2 separate regions of the Homo sapiens genome follow, and region 2 is linked to region 1. Evidence: fine-mapped expression QTL. A gene starts in region 1. The other region holds a variant in brackets. All regions are shown on one strand. Distances are between the middles of the regions. Region 1 holds the start of B4GAT1 (beta-1,4-glucuronyltransferase 1). Region 2 has its middle 23 kb from the start of SLC29A2.

Evidence for each region. PIP is the estimated chance that this variant, and not a neighbour inherited with it, causes the effect. A credible set is the group of variants that fine-mapping cannot tell apart.
Region 2: its variant is the best candidate, but not a certain one, in a credible set for the expression of B4GAT1 in visceral fat (GTEx, PIP 0.64).

What each region holds. Positions count from the first base shown.
Region 1 is chr11:66,343,857-66,352,184 of GRCh38, forward strand. It overlaps B4GAT1 (beta-1,4-glucuronyltransferase 1), which reads right to left and starts at 3,773. Exons shown (of 2, transcript NM_006876.3): 1 at 2,634-3,773; 2 at 1,518-2,384. The coding sequence starts at 3,689. The coding sequence ends at 2,193. BRMS1 (BRMS1 transcriptional repressor and anoikis regulator) reads right to left here and starts at 1,248. Exons shown (of 10, transcript NM_015399.4): 1 at 1,116-1,248. It overlaps B4GAT1-DT (B4GAT1 divergent transcript), which reads left to right and starts at 4,135. Exons shown (of 2, transcript NR_135761.1): 1 at 4,135-4,214. TRS-GCT3-1 (tRNA-Ser (anticodon GCT) 3-1) reads left to right here and starts at 4,264; the gene lies at 4,264-4,345. RefSeq lists enhancers at 988-1,538, 994-1,423, 4,433-4,933 and a silencer at 3,817-4,406.
Region 2 is chr11:66,390,153-66,398,480 of GRCh38, forward strand. It overlaps the pseudogene BRD9P1 and the pseudogene RNU1-84P. Among named protein-coding and RNA genes, the nearest start is that of SLC29A2, 23 kb to the left of the region's middle. The variant G/A (reference allele first, on the strand shown) is at 3,840.

The sequences.
Region 1 (8,328 bases):
TGGAGAAAGAGTTTTAGAAGAAAGCCAAGTACTGCCAAGGAGTAATTGCACTGATAGTGCCAAGTACTGCCAAGAGATCACCTAAGAAGAAGAAAACAGTCCTCTCAGCAGATAATCTCTCAACCTCCTGCAGGCTTCTATTTTATTGTGTTCTTCCAACTTCTCTGGACACTGCTTTGTAGTCCTTTAGAACAGTGCAGACACCACTCCCTCCAGGAAGCTTTGTTTATATCTATTTGCCTGTTCTCATATCTGTCCCCGCAATCAGTCTATGAGCCTCACTAGGGCAGGGGCTGCACATGTAACTTATTTACCTAGCACAGTGCTGGTTCACTTGATGACTGGAGGATTTGCAAATACAAATTTAACAAAAAAATTTTTTGTGAGACAGACATTAGTTTTTACTTTTCGGTAGTCCCAGGTCCCTGTAATGGTAGCAAGCTTTCCTTGACACCAGTTCAAGTTGTGTATAGTAAGCCTGGCCTAGGTGAGTGTTTAGTCATATTCCTCAACAATTTCACTAATGACCTGCACCTGACTTGAAAGGCTCGGTTCTCTAAACCAGCTTCATCTTCCCGTTATCAAGCCTCAGTTCCCAACATTTGCAATGCCTCTTCACTGTTAGTATATTCACTTTGTAAGATGCAGCTTAAGTCTATCTCTTCCAGAAGCCTTTCTTTCCTCCCCCTGGTTCTGATTATGAGTGAGTTAAGTCACAACCTTCCCACCTTACCCCGGGTGCAAAAAGCGGATAACCATTCCTGCTCTGAGTGTTGAGGAGCTCACAGGTGGTAAGGGATGGAAAAGCACACTGTAAAGCGCTGTACACAGGCAATTTATCTTTTCAGAATGGCAGCTCCTCCGGGGCAGGCCCCTAGGGAAGGCAGACCCTCCCCACTCTCGCAGAGGTCAATCCAGCTTCTCCGCAGCGCCCAGGGGGCCTCCCGCTCCCTTCTAGATGCGCCGGAGCGGGCCGGAATATCACTGGCTCGCCCGCAGCCCAGCACGCGTCAGGCCGGTTAAATCTCTGCTTCGGCCTCGGAGGAGGAGGTTGTGCCGGCCCTGCTCGACTAACCGGAGAGGGCGAACCAAAAGCCATGCATGACGATACGCACCGCGGGGACTGGAGCCTCTGGCCTCACGACGGAGATTCCCTGAGAGCTGCCCGTGGTTGCCGGTACCGGCTGCTGCCGCCGGACTCCCGTAGGCGCTGCGCGGCTCCCTTTTCTTCGGGAGGCAGAGCCTATCGGTGCTTCCGTGTGCGTCATCAGGAGGCGACCGTCGGGGATGCTCACAGTTGGACAGTTTGGTCCCGAGGCATGCTGGGATACCGCGGGCCGGTCTCCATAGTAACTGGCCGACATTCGCGCAGGCCTTCGGCCTGCAGGGAAGGCCCTGATGGTTCAGTGCTTTGCAGACGGTGCCCTTCGTCCGCGGCCATCTCCCCACGGCGTGCAAGGGGAGAAGCCGGCCCCGATCCCCCCACCCCCAGCTCAGGAGAGTAACGGAGCCAGCTGTGGGTGTGAACACGCATTTATTTACACATTGTCATCGGTAGGCACATACCCAGCCCAGCCCGTTGAAGGGACAGATCTCAGGCTGTCACCCATGGAACCTGCAGACCCTTCCCTCCTCCAGAACCCTTGAAGGCGAAGCCCTGAGAGAACCAGGAATTTTAGGCTTCTGTTCAAGAGCTAAGAACTAAATTTTATGCCTTCATCTGATTTCTTTCCAAAAAGTCCATTTCATTAAGTATTCAGACTTCTTAGCTCCATCCCATTCATACTTTTTGCTCTCCTACTACCCACCCAAGATTGTTAATAATAACAATAATAATAACAACAATAATACTGCGATAATATTAATACTTCACATTTGTACGAAGCTTACAGAATGTTTTCACATATAGCATCTCATCTGAGCCTCCCAACAGTTCCGTGAGGTAGGTATTCTCACCTCCCTTTTTACAGACAGGGTAACCGAGGCTCAGAGAGGTAACGGGATTTACTCAAGGCCACACAGCTAGTTAGTGGTAAAGCTAGGAATCGATCCCAGCACCCCATATCCAAGTCCAGTGTTTCAACACCACAGCTACCTCTGTAAAGTGGAGCGACATTTCTTACCCCAGTCAGGCCTAAATGGTGGCCTGAGGAGCCAAGAGGCTGACTTCTCAGATTAGGGGAGGGAAGGGCTCAGCAGCGTCGGGGAGAGTTGGGGTACTTGGCCTTCAACTCCTGTTTGAACTGGCGATATAGGATCTTATTGTGCTGATTTTCAGCCTCCTTTTGGGGATGGAACTTCAACGCTTCTTTGAAGCCCTTATGAACCAAGAAACCTTCGTTCAGGACCTCAAAATCAAACCCCGCCACATGCAGCTCGCAGGCCTGCAGGAGGAAAGACAGGTTAGCAAAGTTTGATGACATTGACAGGCCTGAGACTGACTTCCCTAAAGCCACAGTCCAGCGTCCTCACCCCTCTGGAAGTATCCTGGATCTTCCACACCATCCACCCACCTCCTGAACTATGATCCCTCCTGCTTCATTGCCTCCTTTCCATCCAGGGCCACTCCTCATAACTCCCTGATCCCACCACCCCTCCTGCCCCATTACCCCTGCCCTCTCCCTTATGAGCACCTGGCTGATTCGGTTGAAGCCGTACTGCCGAAAGCGCTCGTCGAAGGTGGGCACCTTGCCTCCTGCCACGTAGAATGGCTCCCAGGGGTCCTGCCAAGGTACCACGTAGGCGGGCCGCAGCAAGCTCTCTTCCGGCAGGTTGACCCAGCGGGAATAGTTGGTGGGTGCCTGGCAGGGGGTGCACAACCCATAATAGAAGGGCCGCACCTCGCCAACCTGGTAGAGCTGCACCAGCTCGTTTTTGTTCATGGGCATGCGGCGGGCTCTTCGGATTTCGAAGGCAGGCACCACCAGCGCGGTGCCTCCCCACTGGTTGCTCTGATCCAGCATTTCCCGCAGGCCTCTCCACAGCCCCTCGCTGGGCACCATGTCCACATCGATCACCAGGGCATAGTTGGCCCCCTCACGAGCCAGATTCCTCAGCAGGTTATTGGGGTAGGAGACATTGGTGCCCAGCGCATAATTAATCCCGGGCTGGGCCACCCTGGCTAGCTTGTCAAAGACCTCCTGGCAGGACCGCAGCAGGGCAAACTCCCCCGGCTCCCGGGGGTCGGGCACGGCTGCCTCGTAACGCGAGGGGCACACGAGGTGCATGGCGACCCTGGCGCGCATGTCGGGGCAGTGGCTGCTCAGCGCGTAGGCCAGCACCGTGGCCAGCTGCGCCTCCTCCTTGGTGGCCGCGAACACCGACACGGACAGCGGGCCCTCCCAGCGCTCCAGCAGACCCGACAGGTGCAGCAGGTTGTCCACGCTGGCGTGCGTGGCCAGGATCACATCGTTGGGGTCCATGGTGGTCTTCAGCAGGCCCCTGTAGACGCGGTAATCGCCGCTAGCGTCCAGGACGCCTCCAGAGGCCAGCGCGGTGCGGAGCTGCGCCTTGACCTGGTCCACGGACCGTGGGGACGGGGGAAAGAACTCAAAATATTGGTCTTGCTCCTCCTGCCCGTGCAGTCCGGACAGCAGCGACAGGTAGAGCAGCTGCAGCATCGCCACCAGCATGAGCGCGGCCAGCAGCAGCTGGTAGAAGGCGCACCGGATGGCGTAGGACATCTGCATGGCTCTCGGGGCTCGGGGCGCGCAGCAACGACCACCCGGCCACAGACTACGCCAGCGGCCGCAAGCCCGGATTTACCGCAGCCTGCCGAGCGCAGCCGAGGCGAGCCGAGGCCAGCCGAGCCCCGAGCGCCGCCCCGCCCGCCGCCCGCCGCCCGCCGCCCGCCGCCCGCCACCGCCCCCAGCCCCCGGCGCGCCGGCTCGCCCCCTACGAGGGAGGAGGAGCCACGGCCCCGCCGCTCGGCCGCGCGCCGTGCAGACGCCCGCCCGCCCGGGCCCCGCCGGCTTCCCGGGACGCACTCCTCTCCCTCCCCGCCGGCGCGCGCACCCTGGACCGGGCGCGCCCTGAACGCGCGGCGCGCTCGGCCGGACTCGGAGGGAAACCGCGGCAGAGCTCGGCTGCAGCGTGGTAAAGGATGGCGCGGGCTCAGCAGAAAGGAAATCAAAACGCTCCCTTCCTTCCGCGGCTTCTTCTTTCCCTGTGTCCGAAGAGGTCTGCGTTGCGACTTACGTGGTAGTGCTTGGAAGGTGCGGAGTAGATGAGAGATAAGTGAATGTGGACAAACCTGTCACGTAGGACGAGGTGGCCGAGTGGTTAAGGCGATGGACTGCTAATCCATTGTGCTTTGCACGCGTGGGTTCGAATCCCATCCTCGTCGGCCCTGTTTTATAGAGGTTGGGGGGGAAGCATCTACATTTTCACATCCTGCCTATTTGGAGCAGCAAGCTGGAGGTGCGAGGGGTGAGGCATCTAAATTTTCACATCCTGCCTGTGGAGCAGCAAGCTGAAGAAAACTGAACTGGGGGTGAGAGTGGAATTCGATCCCAAGTCTCTCTGGTCTTTATCCACCACGCATCTCCTGCCTGCTCCTACTTCAGGTGTCTGTAGCTCTGGGCAGAGGCCAAAGGTGTTTTCTTTCCTTCTAGAAAGAGGGCCCAGGGGTTGGTGGCACGGAAAAGACTAGAACCGGGATTCTGGCCAGTGTGAAGTTGGGGGCCAACGTATGATCTGCAGGAATCAGGGAAGCCCCCCATTGGAGGCATCGCCCTCCCCGTCCGAAGTAGTGGTACTTGTCCTACTCTCCAGCACTTCTCCTAGGGCGGAGACCTTGTGTCCACATGCCCTGCTCCCCAACACACACAATCTCTTTTTTTTTTTTTTTTTTTTTTTTTGAGGCGGATTCTCGCTCTGTCGCCCAGGCTGGAGCGCAGTGGCGCGATCTCGGCTCACTGCAACCTCTGCCTTCCAGGTTCAAGCGATTCTCCTGCCTCAGCCCCGAGTAGCTGGGACTACTAGCGCATGCAGCACGCCCGGCTAATTTTTTGTATTTTTAGCAGAGACGGAGTTTCACCGTGTTAGCCAGGATGGTCTCGGATCTCCTGACCTCCTGATCCGCCCACCTCGGCCTCCCAAAGTGCTGGGATTACAGGTGTGAGCCACCGCGCCCGGCCGCACACAAACTCTTAAGCAGAAGGCTTTGAACATTCCAATATCAGGCCACTATACTCTTAATAAGTATTTGTGGATTAATTCATCTGTGGACTCTTTAGAACAGGAGAGGCCGTGGGAAGGGCAGACACTGCCACTGCTAAATCAATTACCGTATATTACTCAACTTTTTAGGCTGAGCCAGGGAGGCCCCTATAGGGCAGAGTGCTCTGAATCTTGGGATGTCAGGACAGACTGGGCAGGGCTTCAAATAAGGATAAAGTGTTTGTCCCACTATTCCACAGGCAGTAGGGTGCCAAGGTTGTTGAGTTGAAGAGTGATCAGAAAACCTTTATTTTGCAGCCCAGAGCAAAAACACACACTGAGTACCTGGTCTCTGCCAGGAACTGTGTTAGGCACGAGGGATGGGCCTTGGAGGAGACACAGGTATTGTCCTTGAGAGTTTCCACTGGTGACCTTGGCTGTAAAGAGGAGAAAAGTAAGTGCAGATCCTTTCAGCACAGGCCTTATAGACTGGAGGCTCAGAAGTCAGACATGCTGCCATGTGGATTTTCTTTGACCTCCTCAGTGTTTTATTTTTTATTTATTATTATTATTATTATTTGAGACAGAATTTTGTTCTTCTTGCTCAGGCTGGAGTGCAATGACGCGATCTTGGCTCACTGCAACCTTGCCTCCTAGGTTCAAGTGATTCTCCTGCCTCAGCCTCCTGAGTAGCTGGGATTACAGGAGTGCACCACCATGCCTGGCTAATTTTTTGTATTATTTTTTAGTAGAGATGGGGTTTCATCATGTTAGCCAGGCTGGTCTCGAACTCCTAACTTCAGGTGATCCACTCACCTTGGCCTCCCAAAGTGTTGGGATTACAGGTGTGAGCCACTGCGCCCAGCCCTATTATTATTATTATTATTTTGAGACAGAGTTTCGCTCTTGTTGCCCAGGCTGGAGTGCAATGGCTCAATCTCGGCTCACTGCAACCTCTGCCTCCTGGGTTCAAGTGATTCTCCTGCCTCAGCCTCCGGAGTAGCTGGGATTACAGGCATGTACCACCATGCCCAGCTAATTTTGTATTTTTAGTAGACTAGGGTTTCTCCATGTTAGTCAGGCTGGTCTCGAACTCCCGACCTCAGGTGATCTGCCCACCTCGGCCTCCCAAAGTGCTGGGATTACAGGAGTGAGCTACCAAGCTCAGCCAGTGTTTGTATTTTCAGTGGACAAGTTTTTTACTTCCTGGGTTAATTTTTTCCTAGGTATTTTATTCTTTTGTATCCTATTGTAAATGGAGTTGTTTTCTTAATTTCCTTTTCACGTTGTTCATTGTTAGTGTATAGAAATATAACTGAATTTTTGTTGTTGTTGTTGTTGTTTTGAGATGGAGTTTCGCCCTTTCACCCAGGCTCGAGTGAAGTGGCGCGATCTTGGCTGACTGCAACGTCTGCCCCCCGGGTTCAAGCAATTCTCCAGCTTCAACCTCCCGAGTAGCTGGGACTACAGGTGCATGCCACCACACCCGGCTAATTTTTGTATTTTTAGTAGAGACGGGGTTTTGCCATGTTGGCTAGGCTGGTTTCAAACTCCTGACCTCAGGTGATCCACCTGCCTCAGCGTCACAAAGTGGTAGGATTACAGGCATGAGCCACTGTGCCCAACCAGAATTTTGTGTGTTAACTTTTTTTTTTTTTTTTTGAGGCAGAGTCTCACTCTGTCTCCCAGGCTGGAGTGCAGTGGAGTGATCTCACCTCATTGCAACCTCCGCCTCTTAGGTTCAAGTGATTCTCCTGCCTCAGCCTCTCTAGTAGCTGGGACTACAGGCGTGCGCCACCACACCCAGTTAATTTTTATATTTTTAGTAGAGACAGGGTTTCACCATGTTGGCCAAGCTGGTCTTGAACTCTTGACCTCGAGTGATCCACCCACCTCAGCCTCCCAAAGTGCTTGGATTACGGGCACGAGCCACTGAGCCAGGCTATTGTGTGTTAATCTTGAATTCTGCAACTTTGCTGACTTTATTAGCTCTAAAAGTTTGTGTATGTGTGTACGTGTCTGTGTGTGTGTGTGTGTGTGTCTCTGTGTGTATGCATGTATTCCTTAGGATTTTCTATATATGTATATATTATGTCATCTGTGACTATGAATAGTTTTACCTCTTTTTCAGTTTGGTTAACTTTTGTTTCTTTTTCTTGCCATTTTTTTTCCCACCCCAGTGCAGAAGTTCATTTCTTGCCAAATTGCTCTAGCTAGAACTTCTAGTACAATGTTGAGGAGATGAAACGGTGAAACCACGTATCCTTCTCTTGTTCCTGATCTTTGGGGGAAGGCTTTAGGTCTTTCGCCATTAAGTATGATGTTATTTGTGGATTTTTCATAAATGCCCTTTATCAGGTGAAGGAAGTTTCCACCTATTCCTTGTTTATTCAGCATTTTTATCTTGAACGAGTGTTGGACTTTGTCACATGCTTTTTATCTTGAACGAGTGTTGGACTTTGTCACATGCTTTTTATCTTGAAAGCGTGTTGGATTTTGTCACTTGCTTTTTGTTCATAAATTGAGGTGATCACTTGGTGTTTCCTCTTCATTCTATTAATGTGGTGTATTACATTGATTGATTTTCTTTTTCTTTTTTTGAGACGTTCTTGCTCTGTTTCCCAGGCTGGAGTGCAGTGGAGCGATCTTGGCTCACGGCAACCTCTGCGTCCTGGGTTCAAGTTATTCTCATGCCTCAGCCTCCGGAGTAGCTGGGATTACAGGCATGCGCCATCATGCCTGGCTAATTTTTGTATTTTTTAGTAGAGATGCCGTTTCACCATGTTCGCCAGGCTGGTCTTGAAATCCTGACCTCAAGTGATCTGCCCGCCTCGGTCTCCCAAAGTGCTGATATTACAGGCATGAGCCACCACACCCAGCCTTTCTTTTTTTTTTTTTTTTTTGAGATGGAGTCTCGCTCTGTCACCCAGGTTGGAGTGAGTGGCGCGATCTTGGCTCATGGCAACCTCTACCTCCCAGGTTCAAGTGATTCTCCTGCCTCAGCTTCCTGACTAGCTGGGATTACAGGTGTGCACCACCACAGCCAGCTAATATTTTTTGTATTTTTAGTAGAGACGGATTTCACCATGTTGTCTAGGCTGGTCTCAAACTCCTGACCTCAAGTGATCCACCTGCTTCAGCCTCCCAAAGTGCTGGGATTACAGGGTG
Region 2 (8,328 bases), 46 kb after region 1:
AGAGCCTGAATCCTCTGAATTATTTTTTAAACTTAAACTTGCACGTACAAAGTTTTTGTGGTGACAAAAAGAATTTTCTTTCTTTCTTTTCTTTCTTCTCTTTTTCTTTCTCTCCCTCTCTCTCTCTTTTTTTTTTTTTTGAGACAGAGTCTTGCTCCGTCGCCTAAGCTGGAGTACAGTGGCACAATCTCAGCTCACTGCAACCTCTGTCCCCCGGGTTCAGGTGATTCTCCTGCCTCAGTAGCTGGTATTATAGGTGTGCACCATCATGCCCGCCTAATTTTTGTATTTTTAGTAGAGATAGGGGTTTCATCATGTTGGTCAGGCTGGTCTCGAACTTCTGACCTCGTAATCCACCCGCCTCGGCCTCCCAAAGTGCTAGGATTACAGGCGTGAGCCACCGCGCCCGGCCTCTTTCCTTTCTCTCCCTTCCTTCCTTCCTTCCTTCCTTCCTTCCTTCCTTCCTTCCTTCCTTCCCTCCCTCCTTCCTTCCTTCCTTCCCTCCTTCCTCTCTTTCTTTCTTTTCTTTCTTTCTTTCTCTCTCTTCCTTTCTCTCTTTCTCTCTCTTTCTTCTTTTTTTTTTTTGAGACAGAGTCTCACTCTGTCGCCCAGGCTGGAGTGCAATGGCGCAATCTCAGCTCACTGCAACCTCCGCCTCCCAGATTCAAGCGATTTTCCTGTCTCACCCTCCCAAGGAGCTGGGATTACAGGCGCCCACCACCACACTTGGCTAATTTTTATAGTTTTAGTAGAGACGGGGTTTCACCATGTTGGTCTTGAACTCCTGACCTCAGGTGATCCACCCGCCTTGGCCTCCTAAAGTTCTGGGATTACAGGCGTAAGCCACCACGTCCGGCCAACACAAAGACTTTCATGTTATTTCTGGAATAAGAAAAACAGCTACGGAAAAAATATATCAACAGCATACTGTATACAGCATTTTTTTTTAAATGGAGATTAATGAATCGTGAAAATAATATGTAAGGCTGGACACAATGGCTCATGCCTGTAATCCCATCACTTTGGGAGGCCGAGGAGGGAGGATCATTTGAGCCCAGGAGTTTGAAACTAGCCTGGACAACATAGTGAGATCCTGTCTCTGCAAAAACTTTAAAAATTACCTGGGCATGGTGGCATGCACCTGTAGTGCTAGCTACTCAGGAGGATGAGAAAGGAGGATTGCTTGAGCCCAGGAGTCTGGGGTTGCACAGAGCTATGATCCTGCCACTGCATTCTGCCCAGGTGACAGAGTAAGACCCTGTCTCTAAATTTAAAAAAAGAAAAAAATAAAGACAAGAAAATAACACGTAAATGGTGAGCTAAACCAGATTTCTTGAATCAACAGTGCTTGTCAGTGATTTTCGCTTCCCCATTCTATGTGCTTTTGTTCTTTTTTGTACAAAGAGATTGTTCTCTGATGTCATTTATGTAATTAAAAATAAATGAATTAAAAACCAAATCGAGAACATTTTCTATTTTTAAAATCAGAAGAAATAACATTTTTACATTTCTAATTAAAACTGTAAGTACGCCGGGTGCAGTGGCTCACGCCTGTAATCCCAGCACTTTGAGAGGACAAGGTGGGTGGATCACTTGAGGTCAAGAGTTCAAGACCAGCCTGGCCAACATGGTGAAATCCCACCTTTACTAAAAACACAAAAATTAGCCAGGCGTGGTGTTGGGCGCCTGTAATCCCAGCTACTCAGGAGGCTGAGGCAGGAGAATTGCTTGAACCCACGAGGCGGAGGCTGCAGTGAGCCGAGATCACGCCACTATACTCTGGGCGACAGAGGGAGACTCCATTTAAAAACAAACAAACAAAGAAACAAAACAAACAAAAAACCTCTAAGCGCATATTTCTAATACAAACCCTAATCTAGACTACAAGTGAACTGTAATCAAAACAGTGGAGTATGAGACAGCAAATCTACTTGTAAGCACTATATGAATGATACTTTTACTTTCTTGAGACAGAGTCTCACTCTGTCGCCCAGGCTGGAGTGCAGTGGCTCAATCTCGGCTCACTGCAAGCTCCACATCCCGGGTTCACGCCATTCTCCTGCCTCAGCCTCCTGAGTAGCTGGGACTACAGGAGCCTGCCACCACGCCTGGCTAATTTTTTGTATTTTTAGTAGAGACGGGGTTTCACCATGTTAGCCAGGATGGTCTCGATCTCCTGACCTCGTGATCCTCCTGCCTCGGCCTCCCAAAGTGCTGGGATTACAGGCGTGAGCCACCGTGCCGGGCCTACAAATGATACTTCTAAGAGAAAACATAGGAGAAAATATTTTTGATCTAGTTAAGGGACCATTTTCTTAGTTATGACACCAAAAAGCATGATCCATAAAAGAAAACATTATAAATTGGAATTCACCAAAATTAAAAACTTTAACTCTTGGCCGGGCACGGTGGCTCACGCCTGTAATCCCAGCACTTTGGGAGGTCGAGGCGGGCAGATCACGAGGTCAGGAGATCGAGACCATCCTGGCTAACATGGTGAAACCCTGTCTCTACTAAAAATACAAAAAAATTAGCCGCACTTGGTGGCATGAGCCCGTATTCCCAGCTACTCAGGAGGCTGAGGCAGGAGAATCGCTTGAACCCGGGAGGCTGAGGTTACAGCGAGCCGAGATCGCGCCACCGCACTTCAGCTTGGGCGACAGAGCGAGACTCCGTCTCAAACAAAAACAAAAACAAAAACTTTAGCTCTTTAAAAAACACTGTTATGAATATAAAAAGACAAGCCACAGACTGGGAGAAAATATTTGCAAAACATATATCTGACAAAGGACTTGGACCTAGAATATATTAAAATAACTCATATAACTAAGTAATAATAATTCAGACAACCTCATTTTTAAATGGAGATGATTGGCTGGGTGCGGTGGCTCATACCTGTAATCCCAGCATTTTGGGAGGCTGAGGCTGGTGGAACACTTGAGGTCAGGAGCTCGAGACCAGCCTGGCCAGCAGGGTGAAACCCCGTCTCTGCTAAAAATACAAAAAATTAGCAGGGTGTGGTGGTGCGTGCCTGTAGTCCCAGCTATTTGGGAGGCTGAGGCAGGAGAATCACTTGAACCTGGGAGGCGGAGGTTTCAGTGAGCTAAGATCACACCACTGCACTCCAGCCTGTTGACAGAGTGAGACTCTGTCTCAAAAAACAAAATAAAACAACAACAAAAAAACGAGATGATGTGAACGGACACCATACCAAGGAAGGTATATAGATGATAAGTTAGCAAATAAAATATGCTCAATGTCATTGGTCATTAGAGAAATGCAAATTTAAACCACAATGACTTACCTGGCAGGGGAGATGCCATGATCACATAGGTGGTTTTCCCAGGGTGAGGTGCATCCATTGCACTCCAGGTGTGCTAACCCTTGCAATTTCCCTCAACGTGGGAAACTCAACTGCGTTGTTTGTGGCAGTGGGGGACTGCATTTGCGCTTTCTCCTGTGTCAACTTTCTTTTTTTTCTTTTCTTTACTTTTCTATTTTTTTTTTGAGATGGAGACTTGTCCTGTCGCCCAGGGTGGAATGCAGTGATGCGATCTCGGCTCACTGCAACCTCCACCTCCCAGGTTCAAGCGATTCTCCTGCCTCAGTCTCCTGAGTAGCTGGGATTACAGGTGCGCACCACCACACCTGGCTAATTTTTTGTATCTTTAGTAGAGACAGGGTTTCACCACATTGGCCAGGCTGATCTCGAACTCCTGACCTCGTGATCCACCTGCCTCAGCCTCCCAAAGTGCCAGGATTACAGGCGGGAGCCACCATGCCTGGCTTACTGTGTCAAATTTCTTTTTTTAAATAATGCAATGAACTACCACTTACTC[G/A]CCTATTAGAATGACTGAAATTAAAAAGACTGACTATACTGAGTGTTGGCTATGAAGGAGAAACTAGAGCTCTTATACTCTGTTGATGAGAATGTAAAGTGGTACATTTTGGAAAAACAATTTGGCAGTTTCTGAAAAAATTAAGCACATACTACCACATGACTCAGCGTTTCACTTCTAGGTATAGTTCCAAAGAAATTAAAGCATAGGTCCAAACAAGGACTTGTACAAAAATATTCATAGTAGTTTTATTTGTGATGGCACAAAACTGGAAACAACCCAATGTCCATAAATAGGTTAAGGGATAAACAAATCACAGGAATACTTTTCACAATTTAAAAGCAATGATGCCGGGCACAGTGGCTCATGCCTGTAATGCTAGCACTTTGGGAGGCCCAGGCGGGCAGATCATTTGAGCCCAGGAGTTGGAGACCAGCCTGGGCAATATGGCAAAACCCCATCTCTACTAAAAATACAAAAATTAGCTGGGCATGGTGGTGGGTGCCGGTAATCTCAGCTACTCAGGAGGCTGAGGCATAAGAATCGCTTCAGCCCAGGAGGCAGAGGTTGCAGTGAGCTGAGATTGTGCCGCTGCACTCCACCCTGGGTGATAGAGTGAAACTGTCTAAAACATAAATAAATAAAAGTAATGAACTATTGATACATACACAGCATGGGTGGATCACGAAATACTAATGCTGAAAGAAGCAGATTCCCCCCTCAAAAAAAATAGTATGCATTGTATAATCCAATTCATATAAAATACTAGAAAATGCAAAATAATCTATAGTGACAAAAGGCAGGTGAGTGGTTGCTTAGAGATAGGGCTGGGCAGGGGGTAGACGAAGGATTACAAACAGTCAAGAGGAGGCTGGGCATGGTGGTTCATGCCTGTGATTCCAGCAGTTTGGGAGGTAGAGGCAGGAGGCTTGCTTGAGGCCAGGAGTTTGAAACCACCCTAAGCAACATAGTGAGACCCCTCTCTACGAAAAGTAAAACAATTAGCTGGGTGTGGTGGTGCACGCCTGTGGTCTCAGCTATTTGGGAGGCTGTGGTTGGAGGATCACTTGAGCTTGAGAGTCTGAGGCTCAGTGAGCTTTAATCGCACCACTCCACTCCAGCCCGATAAAGGGAGCAAGACCCTGTCTCAAAAAAAAAAAAAAAAAAGTCAAGAGGAAACTTTTGAAGGTAATGGATATGTTCATTATCTTCATTGTGGTTACAGTTTCATGGGTATACACATACGTCAAAACTTATCAAATTGTACTATTTATTTATTTATTTATTTATTTATTTATTTATTTATTGAGACAGAGTCTGACTCTGTTGCCCAGGCTGGAGTACAGTGGCACGATCTCGGCTCACTGCAACCTCCGCCTCCCAGGTTCAAGTGATTCTCCTGCCTCAGCCTCCTGAGTAGATGGGTTCACAGGTGCACACCACCACGCTCGGCTAATTTTTGTATTTTTTTTTTTTTTTTAGTAGAGATGGGGGTTTCGCCATGTTGGCCAGGCTGGTCTTGAACTCCTGACCTCAGGTGATCTGCCCGCCTCGGCCTCCCAAAGTGCTAGGATTACAGGCGTGAGCCACCGCGCCTGGCCAAATTGTATACTTTAAATATGTGTAGCTTATTATTCACATGAATTAATACTATCAATAGGTAGGGACTGGGCATGAAGAAAACTGGTATCCCCTGGTAAGGTCATTATATACTTCAATTGGCATATAATTTGAAGGTGCATGATACTTGGAGTTATCTGATTCCTTTTAAAGTTGTCATTTGAATTCTTGAGGTTTCCAGACTTTCCCATCAATGCCCTAGATTTCACAGAAAAGACTTGGAAATAGTATGAATTTAACTTATTTGTTAATTATACCTTTGATTTGCAGCTGCAGCAGCCCTGTGGTTAGAGGGGTAAGAAATTCTCATACGGCAGGCATGCGAAGTACTTGGTGCTCTGTGTCTTGAGCCAAGCATTTAATGACCTGAGCTTTTCTTTCTTTTTTTTTGAGATGGAGTCTCACTCTGTTGCCAGGCTGGAGTGCAGTGGCGTGATCTTGGCTCACTGCAACCTCTGCCTCCCGGTTTCAAGCGATTCTCTTGCCTCAGCCTCCCGAGTAGCTGGGACTACAGGTGCGCCACCACACTCAGCTAATTTTTGTATTTTTAGTAGAGACGGGGTTTCGCCATGTTGGCCAGGCTGGTCTTGATCTCTTGATCTCTTGATCTTGTGATCTGCCCCCCTAGGCCTTCCAAAGTGCTGAGATTACAGGTGTGAGCCACCGTGCCTGGCCAGAGCTTTTCATTTTCTTTAAACTCTCCAGGGTAGTTAAAAGCATCAGCTGCTCCTCAAAATATATTTATTAATTGCAAAGAGAAACGTAGTTATTTTGCAGTGGAGGAACTCAGAGCAAACACTGCCTTAACCAAGCACTCAAGGTTAAAATCACCAGTTTAAAGACCAGGCATGGTGGTGGATGCCTGTGGTCCCTGCTATTTAGGAGGCTGAGGTGGGAGGATTGCCTGAGCCTGGGAGGTCGAGGCTGCAATGAGCCTAGATTGTGCCACTGTACTCCAGCCTGGGCAACAGAGTAAGACCCTATCTCAAAAAAAAAAAAAAAGTTTGTTAAGTCACTAAGTTTGTGGTAATTTGTTACAGCCAACCTTATGGTTTACAGTGTGGCCCAGACTGAGAAAAGATTCTCCAGCCAAACCAGGCTGCAGTCTAAGCAATCCTCTTCTTGTCTCTTATTACTCTGTGGAGCCAATGACACCAGATGGAGAAACTGTATGGAGCTCAGGGAAAGGCTGTATGGGAGAATTGGAGCACGTGCCCTGTGTTTTGTTGGTTTTATTTGGTTTTGGTGGGGTTTTATTGTTTTCTTTTTTTTTCTTTCTTCTTCTTTTTTTTTTGAGAGAGTCTCACTCTGTTGCCCAGGCTGGAGTGCAGTGGCATGATCTCAGCTCACTGCAACCTCCGCCTCCTGGGTTCAAGAGATTCTCCTGCCTCAAGCTCCCGAGTAGCTGAGATTACAGGTGCCTGCCACCACACCCAGCTAATTTTTGTATTTTAGTAGAGACAAGGTTTCACCATGTTGGTCAGACTGGTTTCGAACTCCTGACCTCAAATGATCTTCATGCCTCGGCCTCCCAAAGTGCTGGAATTACAGGTGTGAGCAACTGTGCCTGGCCTGTTTTTTTGTTTTTTGTTTTGTTTTTGTTTTTGAGACAAGATTTCACTCTGTCACCCAGGCTGGAGTGCAGTGGCACATCATAGTTCACTGTAGCCTCAACCTCCTGGGCTCCAGCAATCCTCCAGCCCAAACCTCCTGAGTGGCTGGGACTCCATGTACACGCTGCCACACCTGGTTAATTTTTAAATTTTTTGTGGAGATGAGTTCTCACTATGTTGCTCAGGCTGGTCTTGAACGCCTGGGCTCAAGCGATCCTCCCACCTTGTCCTTCCAAAGTGCTAGGATTCTAGGTGTGAATCACTGTGACTGGACTCCCTGTCTTTTTTTTTTTTTTTTTTTTTTTAGTTAAACTTTTTTTTTTTTGAGACAGAGTCTCACTCTGTTGCCCAGACTGGAGTTCAGTGGCACAATCTCAGCTTGCTGCAACCTCCGCCTCCTGGGTTCAAGCAATTCTCCTGCCTCAGCCTCCCAAGTAGCTGGGATTACAGGCGCCCACCACCACACCCGGCTAATTTTTGTATTTTAGTTCAGACGGGGTTTCGCCATGTTGATCAGGCTGGTTTTGAACTCCTGACCTCAAGTGATCCACCTGCCTCGGCCTCACAAACTGCTGGGATTACAGGCGTGAGCCACCACGCCTGGCCGTTAAACTTTTTATTTTGGGATAATTGTGGATGTACATGCAGTTCAAAGAAATAATACAGAGCGATCCTTTACCCAGTTTTCCCCATTGATAATATCTTGCAAAACTATAGTACAATATTGGCCGGGCACGGTGGCTCACACCTGTAATCCCAGAGCTTCGAGAGGCCGAGGCCGGGCGCTGTGGCTCATGCCTGTAATCCAGAGTTTGAGAGGCCGAGGCCGGGCGCAGTGGCTCACGCCTGTAATCCCAGCACTTTGAGAGGCCGAAGCCGGCCGCGGTGGCTCACGCCTGTAATCCCAGAGCTTTAAGAGGCCGAGGCGGGTGGATCATGAGGTCGGGAGATCGAGACCAGCCTGGCCAACATGGTGAAACCCCGTCTCCATTAAAAATACAAAATTTAGCCGGGCATGGTGGCGCGCGCCTGTAGTCCCAGTAGCTACTCTGGAGGCTGAGGCAGGAGAATTGCTTGAACCCAGGAGGCGGAGGCTGCAGTGAGACAAGATCGTGCCACTGCACTCCGAGCCTGGGCGACAGAGCGAGACGCTGTCTCAAAAACAAAACAAAACAAAAAACTATAGTAAAATATCACTACCAGGATATTGACATTGACACAGTCAAGATACAGAACACTGCTATCACTTCAAGATC